Homo sapiens: one gene and its partners. The protein of the gene in region 1 purifies or fractionates together with the protein of each later gene. This does not show direct contact. Each region holds a gene or a part of one and is shown on either strand. Other genes may lie near its edges.

Region 1 (5,008 bases):
GGATTGAATTTCCGCCAGCTAGATTTTATCCAAGTTCTTGATTCTGGCAAGCTTGGAGGCAGCTAGCAGTAATGCAAGGGATTTGACACAAAGAAGATATAGAGTAACGGGACTTTTGTGTACTGGTAGCAGTTAAGGCCAAAACAACCCAAATTCTCCCTCTGATTCACATTTCAAAGGAGGCCCCAAAAGACTGAGCAGCTATAAATTTGAGGCTCTCTAGGAAGCAATAGTTTCTCTGTGAGAGTGTGGAATAATTTTTGTGTGCATCATTTACATGTATTATCAGTTCCAAAACTAAGATATGGTGGACAATGAGACGGAAGCATTAAGTTTGGTAGAATAATCTATATTGAGGTGGTGGTCATTGACAAATGTTTATCTTACAGCAGCAAAGTGTGATAAGACTGTAGAAGGGGAACACATGGATTTGAGGTCCATCTTGGCTTCTTACTATATGCGTTACTTTGGGCCAAATTACTGAAGTTCCCTGATGCTACATTTACCTGTGAAAATGGACATCATAAAATTTCTCACAGTATTTTAGTCAACATCAAATCAGAAATAGTGTTTATGAAAAAGCTTATAAATCAGAGCTATTTGATATGATAATGGTGTTGACTTTTGTAACCATTCATCTGGTTACATTTCTGTGTAAATTTAAGTTTGAGAGATTGAGGTAAATTCCCCATGTCGCAATTGAGATATACTTCTTAAAGTCCCTAGATTATACTGATTTGAAAAAGAAATTACCTCTTTCATCCCAGAACCTAACTAGGATTAGGTAGAGGGTTGGTGTTTAGTAAGCATTGATTACTTGATTGATAGACTAATTGAATTTATTTCTGAAAGTGTCTGGAATAAGCGTTGAAAACACATGACGTATTGAATTGTGTTGCCAGGCGTTAGAGAATGGATGAATGATGAAAATAAGATTTCCAAATTTGCTTTTTTGAAGGCTTAAAATAGCATTTAACTAAGTAATCAAGACTTCTATAAAATGGTCTTGTATTTTCATTCTTTTTCTGTTTCCCCATAGACATTTTCTACTTGATCTATTATTTTAATTTAGGATTCCCACCCCATTTCCTAGCCCCTGCCCGTAATTACAGCAGGCCTTCTGAAAATGACTTTATACATAGGTTTGTGTCCAGCAAGTACCCAAAAACTTATTCATTCATTCACTCATTCATTCAGTTTGAATTTATTGAGTGGCATCTTTGTGCCGGATGCCATGCTAGTGGTGAAAAGATAGGAGAAAAACACAGAGACTGTTTTGTCCTTTCGTGAAGTTGTGTTGTAGTGTTAATTAGTGTTGATAAAAGAATGTCTACTGTAGGCCAGTCATGGTGGCTTACGCCTGTAATCCCAGCACTTTGGGAGGCCGAGGAGGGTGGCTCTCGAGGTCAGGAGATGGAGACCATCCTGGCTAACACGGTAAAACTCCGTCTCTACTAAAAATACAAAAAAATTAGCTGGGTGTGGTGGTGGGAGCCTGTAGTCCCAGTTACTCGGGAGGCTGAGGCAGGAGAATGGCATGAACCTGGGAGGCGGAGCTTGCAGTGAGCTGAGATGGCGCCACTGCACTCCACCCTGGTGACAGAGCGAGACTCCATCTAATAAGAAAGAGAGAAAGAAAAAGAAAGAAAGAAAGAAAGAAAGAAAGAAAGAAAGAAAGAAAGAAAGAAAGAAAGAAAGAAAGAAAGAAAAGAAAGAAAGAAAGAAAGGAGGGAGGGAGGGAGGGAGGGAGGGAGGGAAGGAAGGAAGAAAGGAAGGAAGGAAAGAAGAATGTCTACTGTATACAAGGGACTATTCTAAATACTAGAGTTTCAGCAATAAATATATGCCATTTTATCAATCATTATAATAAAGCAATCCTTAATGGTAAGGGGGTACCCCTGTACTGCCTTGCTCCTCTTTTAGGATGCTAAGTTACAATTTGGCATTGTTACATCTTAGTTATAACTAAGTTACAACTTGGCACACCCATCAATTTAGGCAGTCATGAACTCTGGGAACGAAAGTGATCATATAAACATTTCCATAGTGTCTTAATAATCAAGCTGAACAGCTAAAGAGAGATGCATGTTTCATCCCTGGCCAGTTCAGAACACAATGCATCTGTAGTCCTGGAGACTCCACACACCTTCCATTTACACAGAAGAACCAGAGATGCCATGACTAGTCCACCTAAGAACAGTCCAGTTCTCCCAACATGAAGTTGAGCACCCAAGTCAATCTCCCCAGGAACATTGTATTGTCTGGCAAATTAGGAAAGATAAGAATTTCATCTGCAAAAAAAAAAGTATGAATAAGAAATTAGCTATGTCAATGTGACAATAAATATTCATTGGGTTAAGACATTAACTTTTTGTGGGAAACTGGTTCTTTAAAATTCTTTTTTAACATACAGGTTTTGCCTCCTGATTTACTTTTATCTGAGAGTTGAACTCTGCTGGGTTAAAAAAATCACCATTATATTTAAATAGCTATCTAAGGTTATTATAAAGGGAAGAAAACATTTTCATTAAACTGTACAATTGTGTTGGTAAGCCAGTGCTTTATGGAAATGTCATTGGTTTCTTCACTGATTTCTGTTGGAAAGAAAAAACATATCAAAGAATTTAGAATATGAAAGCATTGAGTTGTATTATTACCAAATTAATTTTATTTCGTATTTCATAAATTAGTTAACAATGTATTAATAGACTACATAGTGAAAACATCCATCCATTTTTAACTTCACAGAGAAAACTTCGAGTGGGGGAGGGGCATGGGTGAGAATTGTTTTATGACTTGTTGCAGTCTCAAATGTAAATATTCACCTCCCACGAATTTCTGTAATTGTGTTTACATATTGGGATCAATATCTTTACAATGTTTTAGGAGAACATATTAAATTTTTAAAATTATATAATTGCTTCAAAGGGAGCTGATGTACTTTCCAGCACCAAAACTGAGAAGATTTCTTAAAAATTCAGCATCTTGATGAGGCTGCTAAAATTGCACAGATATATGTAGTTCCACATTCAAATTGTAAGAATATGTTTAGGAAATAATGACATCATGATCCTTATATGCTTGGACTCAATAACGGCAAAGAAAGCTTGAAAAATATGATTCCACAGTAAAAGTTGACTTAATAGAATAGTGGTTGAAGAAAATTTTGTGGATAGAATATGCTTAGGGATTTTTAATAACAGCATTTGTTGCCTCACTGGTTCTTTTTAAGGAAATCCTTCCTGATTGCTTCAGTCAAATATATTTAAAGCTGATTAAAGGATGGGGTAATAAAATATGAGAATGGCTGAGTTAAAAGAAGACACTGAAACCAGTCTTATTTACATCTATAGCAATTACTTGTTAAATTAGCAGATGATAATAAAGATGTTACAACATCAGGGAAGCCAAAGAATTTCCATTAGGAGACTAAGAGAGCTAGAAAAAAATGGTAAAAAATGAGCAAAAATCTGCTTAGAAAATGTTGTGGGTGACATGGACTGAATTCACTTGAAATTTACTGAGTTCAAATAGTTATTTTTAACCACTTCTTGCCAGAAAATGAATTTAAAATTGGAGAAAATTATAAGCTATAATTATAGTTCAAGAAGGCAGGATTCAGCCTCTAAATTCAACTGCCTGGGATCAAATTCTACTTCTGCCACTTACTCACTTTGTGACCTCAGAGAGGTACCTAAACATCTCTGTGCCTCGGATTTCTGATCTGTAAATGAGTTAATATTGGTACCTATTTCTGGGCTGCTGGGTTAATATATTCAAGTTCCCTAGAACAGCATGCTTAACTACTAGATGCTAAGACGGAAATATCCCTTGGGTAGAGACCATGCTGTATGTGCTTGTGCAGGTGAGGTGTTTGTAACAATAACTCTTCCCAATCATCCATAATAGTTCTAACACTGAATTAGTGCCAGACATTGTTCCAAAAATGTTAACAAATTTCTGACATAAAAGGTTATGGAATATATTTATAGAACTAGAAAATACATAAATTTGTAGGAAAGAACTAAACAATCCAAATGATACATGTGGAAGATTGGCAAATGTTGAGAAGGACCTTTGATAATATCAAAGTCAATATTTCTTATCTGGGAGGCTGATAGAATCACATGAGATGTTTTACTTTTTCTTTAATATCTGAGTTCCTAACATAGACAAAATAAATCATAATCTTTTAGGGGTGTTTCCTAGACATCAGTATTTTTTAAGGCTTTACGGTTGTTTCTAACATGCAGCTAAGATATAGAAACTCTGAAATTTCTTTTCAGCTGCCTTGTAACCACATATTGTAACCAAGGTCTAGGGAGATGAAGTAAATTGCCTAATGCCACAGAAAGCTAATGATGTCCTGCCTAACTTCTTTCATGTCTAAACATGGCTTGAGTTACTCTTTCCTCCAAATCCTTATTGCTATATTAGGACCTAGGGAAATGCACTGTGACAATGATTACACAAAAGATCCACATTTAAAAGAAATTTACTAATCTAAAAGAGAAAATAAAAGAAGGCTAAAGACTCTAATGAATGGATATAAAAATAATTCTGCCCCATATTTCCAAAAAAAAGATATAACAATAAATTTCCCATAACATTAAAAAAACACAAATTTGAGAAAAATTGATTATAGTAATAATCAACTATGCAAATATTACATAGGAAAAAATATAAATCTGCAGTAGTAATTACTTATTTCATAATGATAATCATGAAGAAAGGAGATAAGAAATGTTTGATTTCCCATTTACAGACTCCATAGATTGAAAAAATATAGCCAGCCCTAGATATACAGAAAGAAATTGGTGAAAATAGACATAACATGGCTGCAGACTAAAGATACTTTCTCTTCTATCCTTTATTCAGGAATGGCTGAGGTAAAATTTATTTTCTAGGTGTCAGGTTTGAATAATTCAATAGCTTTTAAAAAAAATGGTTCATATTTAAAAGGACACTTGGTCCAGAGATTTTTGTTGTTGTTGTTGTTGTTGTCCCG
Region 2 (4,961 bases), on another chromosome or scaffold:
AATTTGTAAATACTTCAGCAGATAGAACTTAGTCCCACTGGTTATTAGCTGAAGTGGAGGCTTTGCTAATTAAGGCGACACTGAATTAATAATAGTTTCATTTTAAGCATCCCTGGCCCCCAACTAGCTCTGCTACCTGCCACTGAATTGAATGAAAATGGTCCATCTGAAGAACAAAGTTAACTTTATAAAATGTTGTATGTCTCAAGTCCTCAAGAACAAAAAGTTCAGAAACAGCAAAGACATTACCCAAAGAAAATGTACAATATATTAAGTTCTACATCAACAAAACTTATCAAGGCAATGTGGTTCAGAAGCTTACATTCCCAACAGCTGTGCATCATGTCTGAGGCCCTCTAGTGTCCAAAGAAGGTGATAATGATTAGAGTCAGTTAAAGAGGATGGTCAAGTTCTTAGAGAAGAAATGAGAAATGCTGGGCTTACTATTCCCAGGGTTATAAAAGATAGTAAAAATCTCCACATCTGCTCCGTTGACATTGTTAGGGCTAGCTGTTTATGTGGAGAAGAGATAGCGGTCTTAGTGTTGGTGCTCTTTCCTTATACATGCTTTTAAGTTAACCAAGGGCTCAACATGCTTCTGTTAACAACTGCTTATCTGAGTAAGTATTAGCAAAAAATGCCTTGATTTGCAGATTATAAATCTTCTCAATTAGAAAGTATCTACCCTATGCTCACTCTGACTGATGTGAACACACACACACGCAGAGAAATGTACATGGCCAGGCACAGTGGCTTGTGTCTCTAATCTCAGCACTTTGGGGGTCCAAGGCAGGAGAATCTCTTGAGCCTAGGAGTTCAAGACCGGCCTGGGCAACATGGCGAGACCCCATCGCTACAAAAAATACAAAAATCAGCCAGGCATAGTGGTGTGCACTTGTGGTCCCAGCTACTCAGGAGGCTGAGGTGGGAGGATCTCTTGAGTCTGAGGGGTCAAGGCTGCAGTAAGCAATGACTGCACCACTGCACTCCAGCCTGGGCAACAGAGATACCCTAAAAACCCCCCCAAATAAAAACAAAACCAAAACAAATGTACACAGGTTTTGTCATTTACCAATAATTACAAAATACAATAAACCCCCAACCCCCAAAAATCAACTCCTTTTCAATCTGCTATGTCTTTGAGATAATTTCCTACCCAAGAAGCGCTGTATTATTGAGTTAAGAGGATGGAGCAAGGAGTCCACATTTAGATCCACAAAATGTCAAAGGTGGGAAAAACATGAAGACATTGAGCAACTATGTATGAGAAACCACCAAGAAAGTGAACAAAATTCAGAAACAGGAGATAAGTTCAAGGAAGACCAGCTTTGTAATTTCAGCTCTGATAGGAAATAATATGAGAAACCTGAATACACACACAATGCTATTTCTTAAGGAGCTTAAAACAACGTGAACTAAGAATGAACTTAGTTAATATATGGCACAGGTATTAATGCAGAACTTGAGGCAAATCAATGACATTCTACTATTCAACACTGCATACGTTTTTTCTTCTTTTTTTTTAAATTTCTGAACCTCCTTCTCCTCTTCCCCCATTCTCTAAAGCATTGTTCTCAAACTTTACAAGAGGTTTGTTAAAACACAGACTGCTGGGCCATACCCCCAGTTTCTGATTCAGGGTAAAACCCAAGAATTTGGGTTTCTAACAAGTTCTCAGGTGCTGCTGCTGCTGCTAGCCTAGGGACCATATTTTTTAACTACTGCTCTGTTTTCTTTAATTTCTGTGTCTCTGTCACTCTGACTGACAATATCTGTCTGGAGAGTTCTGTTGGGAGGAACTGAGGCTGCTTTTAGGCTAAAACAAAGACAGTCAGCTCTCCATATTCATGGTTTCTGCATCCATGGATTCAACTAACTTTGTATCAAAAATATCTGGAAAAAAAAGGTTACCTCTGTATTGAACGTGTACAGTCTTTTTTTCTTGTCCGTATTCCCTAAACGATACAGTATAGCAACAATTTACATAGCGCTTACATTGTACTAGGTATTTTAAGTAATCTGGCAATGATTTAGATTATACAAGATTATGTGCAAATACTACACCATTTTTTTTCTCAGAGACTTGACCATCTGTGGATTTTGGTATCCATGGGAGGTCTTGGAAGCAATCCCCTTCAGATACCAAGGGATGACTGCAGTTTCAGTTCATTAGCCCACTCTAACATAGTCATAAGAACAGGCACTACTCCCCATATGCCACAAAGTAAGAGGACCAAAAGGAGATCACGATGTATGATTCAAATAAGTAAATGTAATAATAAAGAAAATGTGGCTAAAAAAAAAGAAACTTCAAAGTGTGATATTGTTAATGTGTCTCAAATATTTGGCAGAATGATTTGAAGAGACTATGAAGAAACGAAATCTTAAACAAGATGACAAATAGTTAAAGATAGAAAAGAGGTTGTGTACAGAAAGGCAGCTAAGACAAAAGTTGGGCCAGCACAGTAAGTCAAAGGAATTATTGTTTTCTGTCCCCCCTTCCCTCAAAGAAAGAGGGAGCAGAAGAAGTATAAGCGGTAAATATATTGAGGTGGCAAAAGTGACTTTTGACTTACCTCAACAGGAAGCTGATTAAACTTTGTCACTAAGGTATCTGCAGCTGTAGCTACACCAATAAGAGCCACGACCTTCTCTGGTCGTGCAATTGCAGCATGAAGCATAAGCCACCCTCCAAGGCTAGATCCAACAAGAATCTAAAAATAAAATAAAATAAAACATTAGGTCTTTAAGATAGAACAGGTTATAAACATAAAACAAAATATGTACAATAAAAAATTAGAAAGTAAAAATAGAATCATTTTAAATCAAATATCAAAATGGATTAAACATTTAAATTAAATAAAAACATTTTCATATCTAAAGAAACAGCTTAGGCCGGGTGTGGTGGCTCACGCCTGTAATCCCAGCACTTTGGGAGGCCCAGGCGGGCGGATCACGAGGTCAGGAGATCGAGACCATCCTGGCCAACACGGTGAAACCCCATCTCTACTAAAAATACGAACAATTAGCCGGGCGTGGTGGCGGGTGCCTGTAGTCCCAGCTACCTGGGAGGCTGAGGCAGGAGGATGCCGTGAACCCGGGAGGCAGAGCTTGCAGTGAGCCAAGATTGCGCCACTGCACTCCAGGCTGGGTGACAGCACGAGACTCCATCTCAAAAAACAAAACAAAACAAAACAAACAGCTTAAATACGAGGTTACAGTAATTATCATCATACTTAACAAAACAGTCACCTGTGGCCCATCAGCTAAGTCATCAATTATAGAAAGAACATCTTTTCTCCATTTCCCCAGTGTGCTTTCCTCTGAGTTACCATCTGAACTTCCAACTCCTGAGTAATCAAACCTGGAAAAAGGGGAAAAAAATCTATATCTAAATATCTATATATCTGCTTCTTTAATTTTTAAGAAAGATAGCACCTTCCTCATTACTATAATGCTTATAGTGAAACATCACAATCAATATGTATTTTAGCAAATTCTATTGGCTTATTAACTTTCAAATACCTCCTGTGTCCAATCACTTTCTCACCTCCTCCACTGCTACCAGCCTGTTGCTAGTCACACTGTCTCTCAACCTAACTGAATGCAATAGTCTCCTAAAAAGTCTCCTGTTTGCATTTTCACACTCATTGTCTTTCCCTATATAGTAGAGTGATCCTTTTAAAACAAAACCATGTCTTGCAAACCCTCCAAAGGCTTTCTATAATCTTTAAATCCAGAGCCCTTACCATACTTTGGTGCCTGATCACCTCTCTGATCTCATTTCTCATTGTTTTCTCTCTCTCCCTCCCTCCCTCCCAACTGTATCTTCGCTTTGCTTCTTGAAGCTCCCATCTCATCAGCTTTTCTCTCCACATGGCATACTCTCCTCCAGATAGCCATTTAGATTGCTCCCACACTTCATTCAGGCCTTTGGCTCAAATATTACATCCTCAGAAAAGCCTCCCATGACCATTCAATTATTAAAACTGTGCTGCTTTCATCATTCTCTAATTCTTTACTCTGCTTCATTTTCTTCATAGCACTTATTACTACTTGAGATATATTTGATTATTTATGGTCCATCTCCCACATTAGAATGAAAGTTCCACATGGGCACAAGCTTTGTTTCAATGCGTTCCTAGTGCCTAGTTCAGTTCCTTGCGAGTGGTAGGTGCTTAGTGTATATTTAGTGAATTGATGGAAGGGAAGGAGACCAGAATAAAATTCATCATCACCAACCCATCCCTTTCTCCTTCCAACTTCCTAGTTATCTAGGCTCAGTTATCTGTCTGATCTATGAATTTTACCTCTCCTTAAGGGTATCAAATCAATAAAAAATCATGGTGGTATAAAGTATCATACCACACCCACAGGTTACCTAAACTCTAGTCATACTGAACTACTCCTAATTCCCAGTTACACCCTTTTATAACTTAGAGCCTTAGCATGCTGTTCTGCTGCCAAGAACAGCTTCCTCCCCAACCCAAATTCGTAGTCACCCTTTAAGTCATGTCACCTCCTCTGAGGAACTTCACTTGACATATATGCCCCATTTAGTACCAGTCACTTTCTTTTGTATGTACTCAACACTTTTCATATTGTATTGTAATCAAGTTTGTTTTTAAACATTCATCTCCCTCTGACTAGAATGTCAGTTCCTTAAGAGGAGGCTGTTTTATTCGTTTGTTTTTCCAGGCCACAGAATACTGCCTGCCCTATACCATCACCATTCTTTCTCATTTCTTCTTATGTTCATCCCTTTCTTGGTACTTTGGTAAGTCCAGTATCTTGGTGTAGGTGTTTATTTGTCATCTTAGACCTAGACTATCACAGTAGCCTTCTATCTTGTGTCTCTATGACTCTGTCTTTAAATAGAGTCACTATATACATGTCAGTTTTTTTCTTTAACATTTTAGCATTACCTTCAGTGCTCCCTGTGATATACAACATAAACACTT
Region 3 (5,540 bases), on another chromosome or scaffold:
AGGGGGATAAAAAAGTGACACACCTGCCACTTAAGTCAATTTGAATACTCCACAGTTGGGTGACTGGAGGCAAAGTGAAGAACAAGTCACAGGGGCATGAGATCATGTTAAATTCAGTGGCAGGGCGGGTCCCAGTGGCTGACGTGTGCTCAGGAAGGTAGCAGCAGAGCAGGGACCAGGGAAGCATCTCGACCTGACAGCTGTGGAGTGAAAGGCTCAAGGCAATCCCAGTGCTCCTAAAAGAGCTGGGCTAAAGTTCTAATTTGAAATTACTAGATTACAGAACATGACGAAGTATTTACAAATGTTTTGAAATGTGTATTTCATTTGAGTTTAAAATGTGTAGTGCTTAGATTTCAGGCACCGCAGATAATCCTCAAAGAGACCGGGGGAGGAAAGGAGATTACATGCTTGTACACAAGCAATGACCATGGAGTGCTAGAACCTAGAGCACCCACATAGGAACATGGGTGGGCCCGACATCTTCAGGACCTGAGGGCTGGAATGGAGACAGATAGGAAGGGAAATTTAGATAAGGGAATAGCATGAGGAAGAGCATGGCAGGCATTTGTGGGGAACACAGTTGCCCAGGATACTGAAGAGAATGAGAGACATGAAGTTCCCCTTTCATTAAGCAACAAATCGACATCGGATCTATATCATTTAAAATGAGACTTTCAACTATCTCAAAACATAAACAGGAAAAAGAAATGGAAAAACTGATAAAAATGGGTTATAATATTTGGAATTCAATCTTTGTTTTCTTTTCCTCTTTCTCAAGTTTTGTTTTTAATGTAAAAGGTTCACAAGCTGAACCATGTGCCCATTTCTGCTTCTGCACCAACCGCTCATTATTTCTGTCTTGTATACTGAGCACTACAAAGTCACAGGAAGATGTTTCAATCACTAATGGCCTTACAGCCAAAGCTCATAATTAAAGGTTTTGATGAGCCGTGGGATGCAGAAGACCATTACAGAGGCAGAGACTGGGGCTCAGGAAGGGTGAGGGACTTGCATAAGGTCACACTGCTGGTGGGTGACCAAGAACTGAGACCAACTCTCTGATTCTGGCTTGTTTTCTACTACAGTTTCTCAATAAAAATATGAAGAAAATCAATCACAATGACAGCAAGTAGTTGAATTAGATTAAGGATGTCAAAGAATTATCTGGAGAGCATTTGTGAAAACAGATCCCAGTGCTACATAATATGGATTTCTAAAAATCTCCTTAGGTGATTGAAACACAGCCAGGTTTTGTAATTAAATTACCCCCAGAATCTAGACTGTGTAAAGATGCTAAGTTCTTCCAAGCTATAGATATTAGGGGTGACTTATTTTTTTTCCCCAACTAAAAGAGACTATGATTTTAAGCAAAATGTAATTGTGCCAATATGTGCTATGATACATTCTAAAACAAGTTTAAGATTTTCAAATTGTCTAGTTTTTACATTCTGTTCCACATGTGTATATATGTGTGTGTGTGACGAATAAACATCTGACTTGTGAATTAAAAAAAATGTTAGCCCAGATTTTACCAAAGCAGTTTTTTATTGCTAATCCCAGGTTCAACTGCTTTTAATTTTACATCTATTGACTCAGCAGTTATAGGCCCAGAGATACAGTCCAAAGTCCTGGACAAAAATCAATGTATGTCTCACTCCCAAGGTCCTTGACTCCATTCGGCCATCTTGCAAATTGTATTGTCTGCTTCCACTGGGGCCTGGGTTGATCCTGGAAGCCATACTGAGGAAAGTGCATGAAGGAGTAAGAACTATCACTAACACACTGTTCCCATTGATCCAAAAGGCAGTTTTGGTTCCAAATATAGTTTTCCTCACTACAATTTTGGGATGACTCAGATGATCACTTACCTCGAGGAGTTCACTGTGTCCACAGTAGGATAGGGCAAAACCACATATTCTATTATATTTTGTATAAGACATAGCACATAGATATAATGCGTTTACTCTTCAAGGAGAGGAGGTGCATACCATTGTTTTATTTGATAGATAAAAGCTCATGGCAAAAACGTAAAAGTTTAAACTAGTTTCCATCCATGAAATGAGTAAGACTCATGGTTCTTAGTATTTTCGTGACTAAAGGGATCCAATTTTGGTATCTAATATTAATGAAACGCTCATGTAGTGTGTCCCCACATGGGTACTTCTGGAAAAGTCTACACTGTGAACTGGACTTCACCAAAGTGAGCAGGAAGGGAAATCCCGACACGCCCTGATGCTCTTGTCTCTAAAGGCATTTTGAGTGGAGAGAAGTGGGGGAGAGGGGAAGAAGCGGGTAGGAGGGGAGGAGGAGGATGGGGAGGAAGAGGATGCGGAGGAAACAGCAGCAGTATCAGGTAGAGGTACAACTCTTACTAAGTTGCCCTGCTCCCCAGAAGAGGGAAACCAAGCATGATGATCAAGTCTGGAAAACACTTCCTTTGAACTCCTACCCCTCAGAAACTACTTCCCTATTCCCCAAACCAAATTTCTGCTAATTCATCATGAACCAAGAACGTATGCAGGATAGGGAGGAGTGGAGGCCATAGGACACGGGCACCGCAGAATGGAACCTCATAGCCGCCGGTTCCACCGTCCCTTTCTTGGACCAGAAGGAACAGGACCTAGATTTCTGGATCCCCCATTGTCCAATCACAGGTTCCCACCGCACCCAATGGCCCCCTCCCGTCGCGGTCCTAGAAAATCCCGAGCCACTGGTCCCGGTCAGGCCCGGCGGGCCAGGGGCGGGGCGCCAGGAAGAGCTGCGCACCCAGGACTTGCGGTCTCTCCTTACCCGCGAGGGTAGGCCGGACCCCACCCCCGGAAGCCCGCCCTGATCTCACCTGCCAGGTGGGCATCCCGAGGGTGCGCGGCCTCCCAGCCCCTCCCCGGCCCCGCAGCCTGGCGGGGGAACCCCAGGCGCTCGCCTGCGCTTACCGGCCGGGGGCTCCCGCAGGCTGAGGCGCACGTTCAGGTACTCCACCTCCGAGAAGACAGCCAGGGCCGCGGTGCTGGCCGAGGCGCGGGGGCAGGTGCTCGGGCCCCAGGCGGCGGTGGCGCGCCCCTGGGCCTCCAGGCGCAGCGCGCGCAGGGCCACCGGCTCGGACGCCTCCAGCAGCACGTGCCCGGCCACTGTCTCGCCGCTGGAATAGCAGCCCTTGCGCTCGTCCTCGAACACCAGACCCAGGCTCTTCACGCGGCCCTCGGCACCCACGGCCGCCGCGCACCCAGCCTCCCCGCCCATCCCGCCGGGCGACTCTTTCCTGCCCCTGAGGTCGGCAGAGGCCCGGAGCCGGGGTCGCGAGCACAGCGGCGCCGCTGTCACAGGCGCTCGCGGCAGGGTAAGGCCGCCGCGGCAGCCGTGCGGTACCCGATGGGGCACCGGCTCGCCGAGAGGCCTGTCGCTTTAACAAACCCAGTTGGGCCTGGAAAAGGGCCGGGACAGCCCACCCCCGGCGGGCGGCCATTGGTCAGCTGCGAGCCCTGCTTCTTGCTGATTTGTTGTAGATGGTCACTGAGTCATTTCATTGGCGCTCCCACGCGTGGGTGGGCGCAGGAAGGCCGTGCGTGATCAGGGAGTGTTGGCCAATCGGGAGGCTCCGGCGTGCACGTGCACAGGCCGTTTACTGGCTGAGGCCAGGCACAGTCCTGGAGCCCTGGCCAATAGTGAGGCGGTGCGCCCATGTGGACAGACAGTGGGAAACAGTATCTGTCAGGGAGGGGGCGGAACAGGGTTATCTCCGGCTCTCAGCGTGTCAGCCGTTCCCATAGTTACGAACGGGGGCGGGGTTTCTAGCAGCGTAAGGACTTTGCAGGAGCCACTGGGTTCTCGCTAAAGCATGAAGTTGTGGCTGTAACTGGCTTGTGTTTATGATTACATCTGCAATACTCGAGGGGAAATAGATGCTCTGGGAAACGGAACTCGGCAATATTTCCTTTTGAGATCTTGGGGGCCGGCCGCATCGGGACTTTAATGAATGACTTGGAATCTTCTAACCTCCAGGTTTTTGATCACCGCCTCTCCCAGGTTTCAGAATTCCCAGCCCATGTAAGAGCCATAGATAAGAAAAATGAGGGTTGTGGTTTTAAACCTGATACATCCCCTAAGGAGTTCTCCTCCTAAGCTCCGCAGTGTCGCTGTTAGGAATAGCTGGAACTCTGATTCTTCCTGCTGTAAATAAGATCATGAATCACATTGTTTTTGAACAACATCTGTCACTCAAGTTTCTGCCCCACCCGAAAGTTTCCTGACATCATTGTCATATCCACAGAAATTTCCAATTGCCTTGATGACTTGTTCCTCACGCCCAAGTTTCCTCCGGCTTGTCCTGCTACATTTTCCTTTTCAACCTTCCATTTTTTCTCTGTTCTGTTTTTTACCATCTTGCATAGCTGTCATTAGCTGGTCATCATTTTCTTAACTTTTAAGTTGTCCCCTTATCGACATGCCACGTTTGTGAGCTGTTATGTATTGATTAATCTCACAATGAAATTTAGCAATTTTCCTAAAAAAAAAACCTCAAAGTAAAGGTTGCTCTACTACCCTCGTTGAGTTTAGATTATTAATGTGGAGATTTAGTAAAGTTTTATAAGTTCAAAATTTCCTTATTACCTCTCAGAGAAAGTGGAAAAGTCACAAATTAGGCTCTGTGTAAAGTTCAGAAATAGTTGCTATTCTCTGACCATTTCGTCTAGAATAGCTCCCTACATGATCTTACTCTGCCTACTTTTTTTTTTATATAACACAACGTGACCTTACGTGTTTATCTATGTATTATCCATCCCACTCATTTGAAACACAGAACTTGTTCTCATTCGTTTTTTGACCTCTAGGGCCTAACACAGATCTTAGCATACAGTAAGTGCTCAATAAATGTTGAGTGATTGAATGATGTATCCTAACCGTGTAGTAGTATTGGCTCTGCAATACATGAATAGTGTTCTGCCTCTTACTCTACTAAACTTTCACTGTCTCCAGGCAATGGTTCCCTCCAAATTAAGTGGCTGGGAGAGGGAGAAAAGGACAATGGTCCTAACGGTAATGAAAGGACAAAATGGCAGGTTTTGCATTCTGTACTGGGAAAGACCAGACTCTCTGTTTTCATTTCAGTTAAGAACAGTTTTGGCCAGCCAGGCATGGTGGCTCACACCTGTAATACCAGCATTTCGGGAGGCCGAGGCGGGCAGATCACAAGGTCAAGAGATCGAGACCATCCTGGCCAACATGGTGAAACCCCGTTTCTACTAAAAATACAAAAATTAGCTGGGTGTGGTGGCTCGCACCTGTAGTCGCAACTACTCGGGAGGCTGAGGCAGGAGAATCTCTTGAACCCGGGAGGCGGAGGTTTTCAGTGAGCCGAGATTGTGCCACTGCACTCCAGCCTGGGTAAGAGAGCGAGACTCCATCTCAAAACAACAACAACAAACAATAGTTTTGGCTACAGGTAACAACAGACTGTGTGACCAACACACATTCTGCCTTTAAAAATATTTCTTGTTTACTAGACGAAAAGGTCAGTAGTAGAGTATGGGCCCTTCAGA
Region 4 (4,961 bases), on another chromosome or scaffold:
TGTTCCTATATTTTCAATGTATCTTTTTCCTTCAGTAAACCTGATATTCAAATAAAATGGTAAATGTGTGCTTTTTTAAATATTTAAAGTACATTAAGGGGCTGGAACTTTAGTAAAGCAAAACATTGAATTCCCCATCCGCCCTAAGTGATTCAACTGCTGTTATCTATAGTACTGGCTAATATTTATAAATACCAAAGGAAAGTCTCTTATAATTGCCATGCTTTAAATTCTGAACTTAAATTCTGCCTATGACAATTAAAATACCAGTCAACAGGAAAGAACTTACATATTAGTTCTTTGCCCAAAACCTATTTTTTTGTTTTAGTAATACATAAAGACAGAGAAAATCGTGACTGTACTGATTTTCTTGACTTTGAGACGGGTGAGTCCAGGTAAAAGTAGGCCACTAGTCAATATGGTTTCATGTTAGTATTTACTAAAGTTTTAAATATAATCACGTAGAAAACAAACATTTCAAAAATGCAAAATATTAGAAATCTAATCAGTGCTATTAATCTTTCCATGCAAACAATCTCTTTTGCTGAGATAAGTGATACTAGTTCTGCAGCTGGGAATATGTACAAAATGATGCTGTACCAGAGTTTAAAAATAGGGTTGGTCTAGAGATTGCACATGATACAAATGAAGCAGCGCAAATAATATATGACTAAATACAGGATTTCAATCAAGCTTATCATCCTGGGAATATACAGCTATAATACCATGAATAGACAAGATATAAAGCTCTTTCACAGTTACCCACCCCTCACCACTAGGAAAGAAACATTTCTTAATACAAAGAGTGGTTTATCTGGCTATCCAGGGCTATGCTGTCCATCTTTGGTTATAGGGACTCCCTCTGCTTATCCTTTGGTTTACTCTTAAATAGCACCTATTCTGCCAATAGGAAGAGTAAACATAAATTTGAAGACCACAACTTGGCAAAAGCTTCCCCTTAATATACAGTGAATACTTAATTCTCAATAACTCAGAGTTTATATACCTTTAAAAAAATAAAGTATTCCATATATCTGAAACTTAGTGGCATACTTAGCACTAGACTATAAGCAGATGACAAAGAAAGGCCAGGCCTGACCTATACCCCAACCTTACCTCTACAATCTCCATGGTGACAGTAATTACCCTTCATTTTCCTTTTCTTTCCAGAAAGGGATAAAGACCACTGCTGTCTAAGGAATGGCTTCAGTAAATATTAAATGTCAGTGGCTTTGAATACCATAACATTTATAAAAAAATTTATAAACAATAAACCACAGCTCGCCTGCCTTTGCCACTCTATAAACAGAGGCCTGTGGAATCTGAGAGCAAGTATAAAGGATTATCATAAAGAGAACTACAAAGACAATGACAAACTGACCAATGAAGAAGAAAAATCTACAGCAAAGTAGTGAAAAGATGCCTTGACAAAATTAGTGTGCAGTCACTTGTGTTCTTAGAAGTAAACCTCACTTCATATGTTCCAGACTCAGCTGACACTGACTCTGGAATAGCTGTTTCTTGGACCCTACAGACATAAGTTTTTCTTTCAGAACAAGTTAAACATTTCCCCCTAGCCAAACCTACCTGCTCAACCAATGCTGCCCGTGCCAAGAGCCTTTTAAATATGCTTTGTGGATTATGGATACCTAAGAAGGAAAGAGGATACACAATACTACCTTAGCTCAAGTAGAAATGGCAGGTGACAAATTCTGTTTCACCATAAAGGCACCACTAAAAGGTTTTATTTAGAACCTCAGCAGCCTGTAGAGGCTACACAATTTCAGGTTCATCAGCTTTTACAACTATTTTCAACGTAAGAATAGAAGCTATTAGCAAATAACTTCTATCAAATATAAAAGGGAGGCCTAGGATATACAACATCTTTGCTTTATAAAGATGCACCTAACATGAACTAACTTGTCAACTTTAGACTCTTACAGCAGCTCAAACAGTTGCAAAAACAATGAACATCAGTGATTTCTGGCAATAAGTCTGTCAGTTCTAAGAGAGTAAACAACACTTTTTTAAAGCTACATTCTAGTCTTTCTTCATACACTACACATAAGAAAGAAATGCAGGTTCAAAAATAAATCACCCAAAAGTCTTTTCCATGTCCACTGAGACTTAGCCTTCAGTTCAACACAAACAAGAGATAAGTGTACTCCAAAATGCCTTCTGAATCTCAAGAATCTGTTTCCAAACTAGAACATTTTCTAAAGATAAGCAATAAGTTCCTTAAAAACATGTCTACCCCACCCAAAACAAATCAAACCCAAAATAGGCTTTACACCCTGTCAAGTACTAATCAATAAAGTGTGGCAACTATAAACTATCATCAAAGAATTAAAGACACAAACCACCCCCAGCTATGCAGAAAAAAATGGCAAGTGTTTATATGAAGCCAGTGGTTAAAAGTAATAGGGCCTTTTGCTTTTCCATTCATTTCCAAAGAGGAAGATTATCTTCCAAAGACCCCAGTGGTGAGTAAGTGGCAGGCAACATGCAGGAAATGACGCAGCTGAGGAGAGGAAAATTGCAGCAACAAACAGGTGGATTTTCTGGGGAAGGATCCCTCAATGTCCGTCTAGGGAAGAAAGTGGGAGAAGAGCTGCAGTCACAACTGGAAGGCAACCACAGAGAATGCCAGAGTCGAATACACAGACTTTGTAATTTCACATCTAAAAGGCTGAGTAATTTAAATCTCAGGATGGGTGGTTGGTAATTAAAATCATAACTGTTGCCACAGTAACTCTTAGATAACAGAACCATTAAAACTCTGAGTTTAGATCCTAAAAAATGACAGGTGTCATTGGACAAAATCTCTAGCAAAACAGACATACACTAATCTTCCTCTAAATGGGCTACTGTGTTTTTTTCCCCATGAATTTCTACCAGTCCCTCTAAAAATGAATAGCAGCCTAGATCTTGGTGACAGGCAACAGCTAGTATATTTAAAAAGAGCTTGAGGCTCCATAGTTCATTATAACATGTTAATATGTAAGAATTACACTATATATATGACATTTTAAAACTTACATTAAGCAGCCATAGATGGGTCATTTTTACTGTAAAGGCTGATCAAGGAAGATACCCTGGGTTTGGTAGATCTCTTTGAGGACGAGCAATACTGTATCTTCAGACTCCCTATAAAGAGAAAAAATTATGTTGAGAAAAGGAACTAACACTTGTGCCAAATGTTTTACATATATTATCTCATTTAATCCATACAACCATCTTGCAAGTTTATTTTTTACTTCTGCAAAGAAATGAGATTCAGAAGTAATGTAATTGGCAGTGGTTTGGAAGGTGACCTGGCAAAGAACTCTGGCATTAAGTCTAGTAATATAAAAAAGCTAGGAAGAGAGGCCAGGTGCGGTGGCTCATGCCTGTAATCCTAACACTCTGGGAGGCTGAGGTGGACAAGTCACTACAGGTCTGGAATTTGAGCCAGCCTGGCCAACATGGTGAAACCCCATCTCCACTAAAAATACAAAAACTAGGGCTGGGCACGGTGGCTCACGCCTGTAGTCCCAGCACTTTGGGAGGCCAAGGTGGGTGGATCACAAGGTCAGGAGTTTGAGACCAGCCTGGCCAATATGGTGAAACCCCATCTCTACTAAAAATACAAAAATTAGCAGGGTGTGGTGGTATGCGCCTGTAGTCCCAGTTACTGGGGAGACTGAGGCAGAAGAATTGCTTGAACCCAGGAAGCGGAGGTTGCAGTGAGCCGAGATTGCACCACTGCACTCCAGCCTGGCAGATAGGCGAGACTCCGTCTAAAAAAAAAAAAAAAAAACTAGCCAGGCGTGGCAGCATGCGACTGTAGTCCCAGCTACTCAGGAGGCTGAGGCAGGAGAATCGCTTGAACCGAGGAGGCAAAGGTTGCAGTGAGCCGAAGGTTGCAGAGTGTCACTGCACTTCAGCCTGGGCGACAGAGTGAGACTCCATTTCAAAAAAAAAAAAAGCCAGTAAGAAATAACCAAGAATTGTTCCTTTTCCACAGAGATCATTCTAGAGACACTATTGAAGAGTTATCCAGTTGGTCACCTTAATTTTTAAAATATTATGCACTTTTTGGAAAAGGTAATACAATCATAAGGTTCCAAATTCCAACAATATAAGAAAGTAACGAAGTCTCCCTCCCACCTTTGTTCCTCAACCACCACCAGTTCCCATCTTCTGACAACCAATGTTATCAATTTCTCATGCGTTTTCCAGATATTATTCTACGTATGCACAAGCAATTACTTATATCCACACTTCATAACAAAATTTGATTTAAAAAGATTAACACTCATGAGGGACTGCCTTAAGGATATAAGCCTCTATTATTCTTCTAGATCTGTGGTTCAACATTTATTGAGTCATGCATCCTTTTGAGAATCTAATGAAATTACGGATTCTTCCCCAGAAAGGATCACATTGCAACCACAATTATAAATGTGTATTTCATTGGATTCACAGACTTCCCTCATCTCCCACAAACTCATATACACAGACCCCAGCTTAAGAAATTCCTGTATCAACAAGTGGGAATTAGCTCTATCAGATATTAAAATGGTACATAAATAAGCAAATCAACAAGTAAGAAGTTGAGAAATAGTCCCATTTATGTATAGGAATTTAATTAAGTGGCCAGGCACGGTGGCTCACACCTATAATCCTAACACTGGGAGGTCGAGGCAGGCAGATCACCTGAGGTCAGGCGTTCGAGACCAGCCTGGCCAACATAGTGAAACCCCATCTCTACTAAAAATACAAAAATTAGCTGGGCATGGTGGCACATGCCTATAGTCCCGGCTACTCAAGAAGCTGAGGCAGGAAAATCATTTGAACCCAGATGGCGTAGGTTGCAGTGAGCCAACTACTGCACTACTGCACTTCAGCCTGGGCAACACAGCAAGACTCTGTCTCAAAAAAAAAAAAAAGAATTTAATTAATTTAATTTAGAATCTCAA

What was found.
Region 2: the proteins of IFIH1 (region 1) and ABHD10 purify together in Homo sapiens (co-immunoprecipitation; one large-scale study listed by IntAct). This does not show direct contact.
Region 3: the proteins of IFIH1 (region 1) and ARRDC4 purify together in Homo sapiens (affinity purification with western blotting; one study listed by BioGRID). This does not show direct contact.
Region 4: the proteins of IFIH1 (region 1) and DDHD2 purify together in Homo sapiens (co-immunoprecipitation; one large-scale study listed by IntAct). This does not show direct contact.

What each region holds. Positions count from the first base shown.
Region 1 is NC_000002.12:162,311,118-162,316,125, reverse strand, and holds part of IFIH1 (interferon-induced helicase C domain-containing protein 1), read left to right. Parts: intron 1-5,008.
Region 2 is NC_000003.12:111,984,667-111,989,627, reverse strand, and holds part of ABHD10 (palmitoyl-protein thioesterase ABHD10, mitochondrial isoform 1 precursor), read right to left. Parts: intron 3,365-4,961; coding exon 3,253-3,364; intron 2,715-3,252; coding exon 2,577-2,714; intron 1-2,576. UniProt on the Homo sapiens protein: Acts as an acyl-protein thioesterase that hydrolyzes fatty acids from acylated residues in proteins.
Region 3 is NC_000015.10:97,958,565-97,964,104, reverse strand, and holds the start of ARRDC4 (arrestin domain-containing protein 4), read right to left. Parts: upstream 3,403-5,540; 5' UTR 3,244-3,402; coding exon 2,937-3,243; intron 1-2,936. UniProt on the Homo sapiens protein: Functions as an adapter recruiting ubiquitin-protein ligases to their specific substrates. Plays a role in endocytosis of activated G protein-coupled receptors (GPCRs).
Region 4 is NC_000008.11:38,258,226-38,263,186, reverse strand, and holds the end of DDHD2 (triacylglycerol hydrolase DDHD2), read right to left. Parts: intron 3,148-4,961; coding exon 3,066-3,147; 3' UTR 3,040-3,065; intron 2,624-3,039; exon of another isoform or gene 2,588-2,623; 3' UTR 351-2,587; downstream 1-350. UniProt on the Homo sapiens protein: Diacylglycerol (DAG) and triacylglycerol (TAG) lipase required for proper lipid homeostasis in the central nervous system. It cooperates with PNPLA2/ATGL in neuronal TAG catabolism and hydrolyzes sn-1,3 DAG downstream of PNPLA2/ATGL.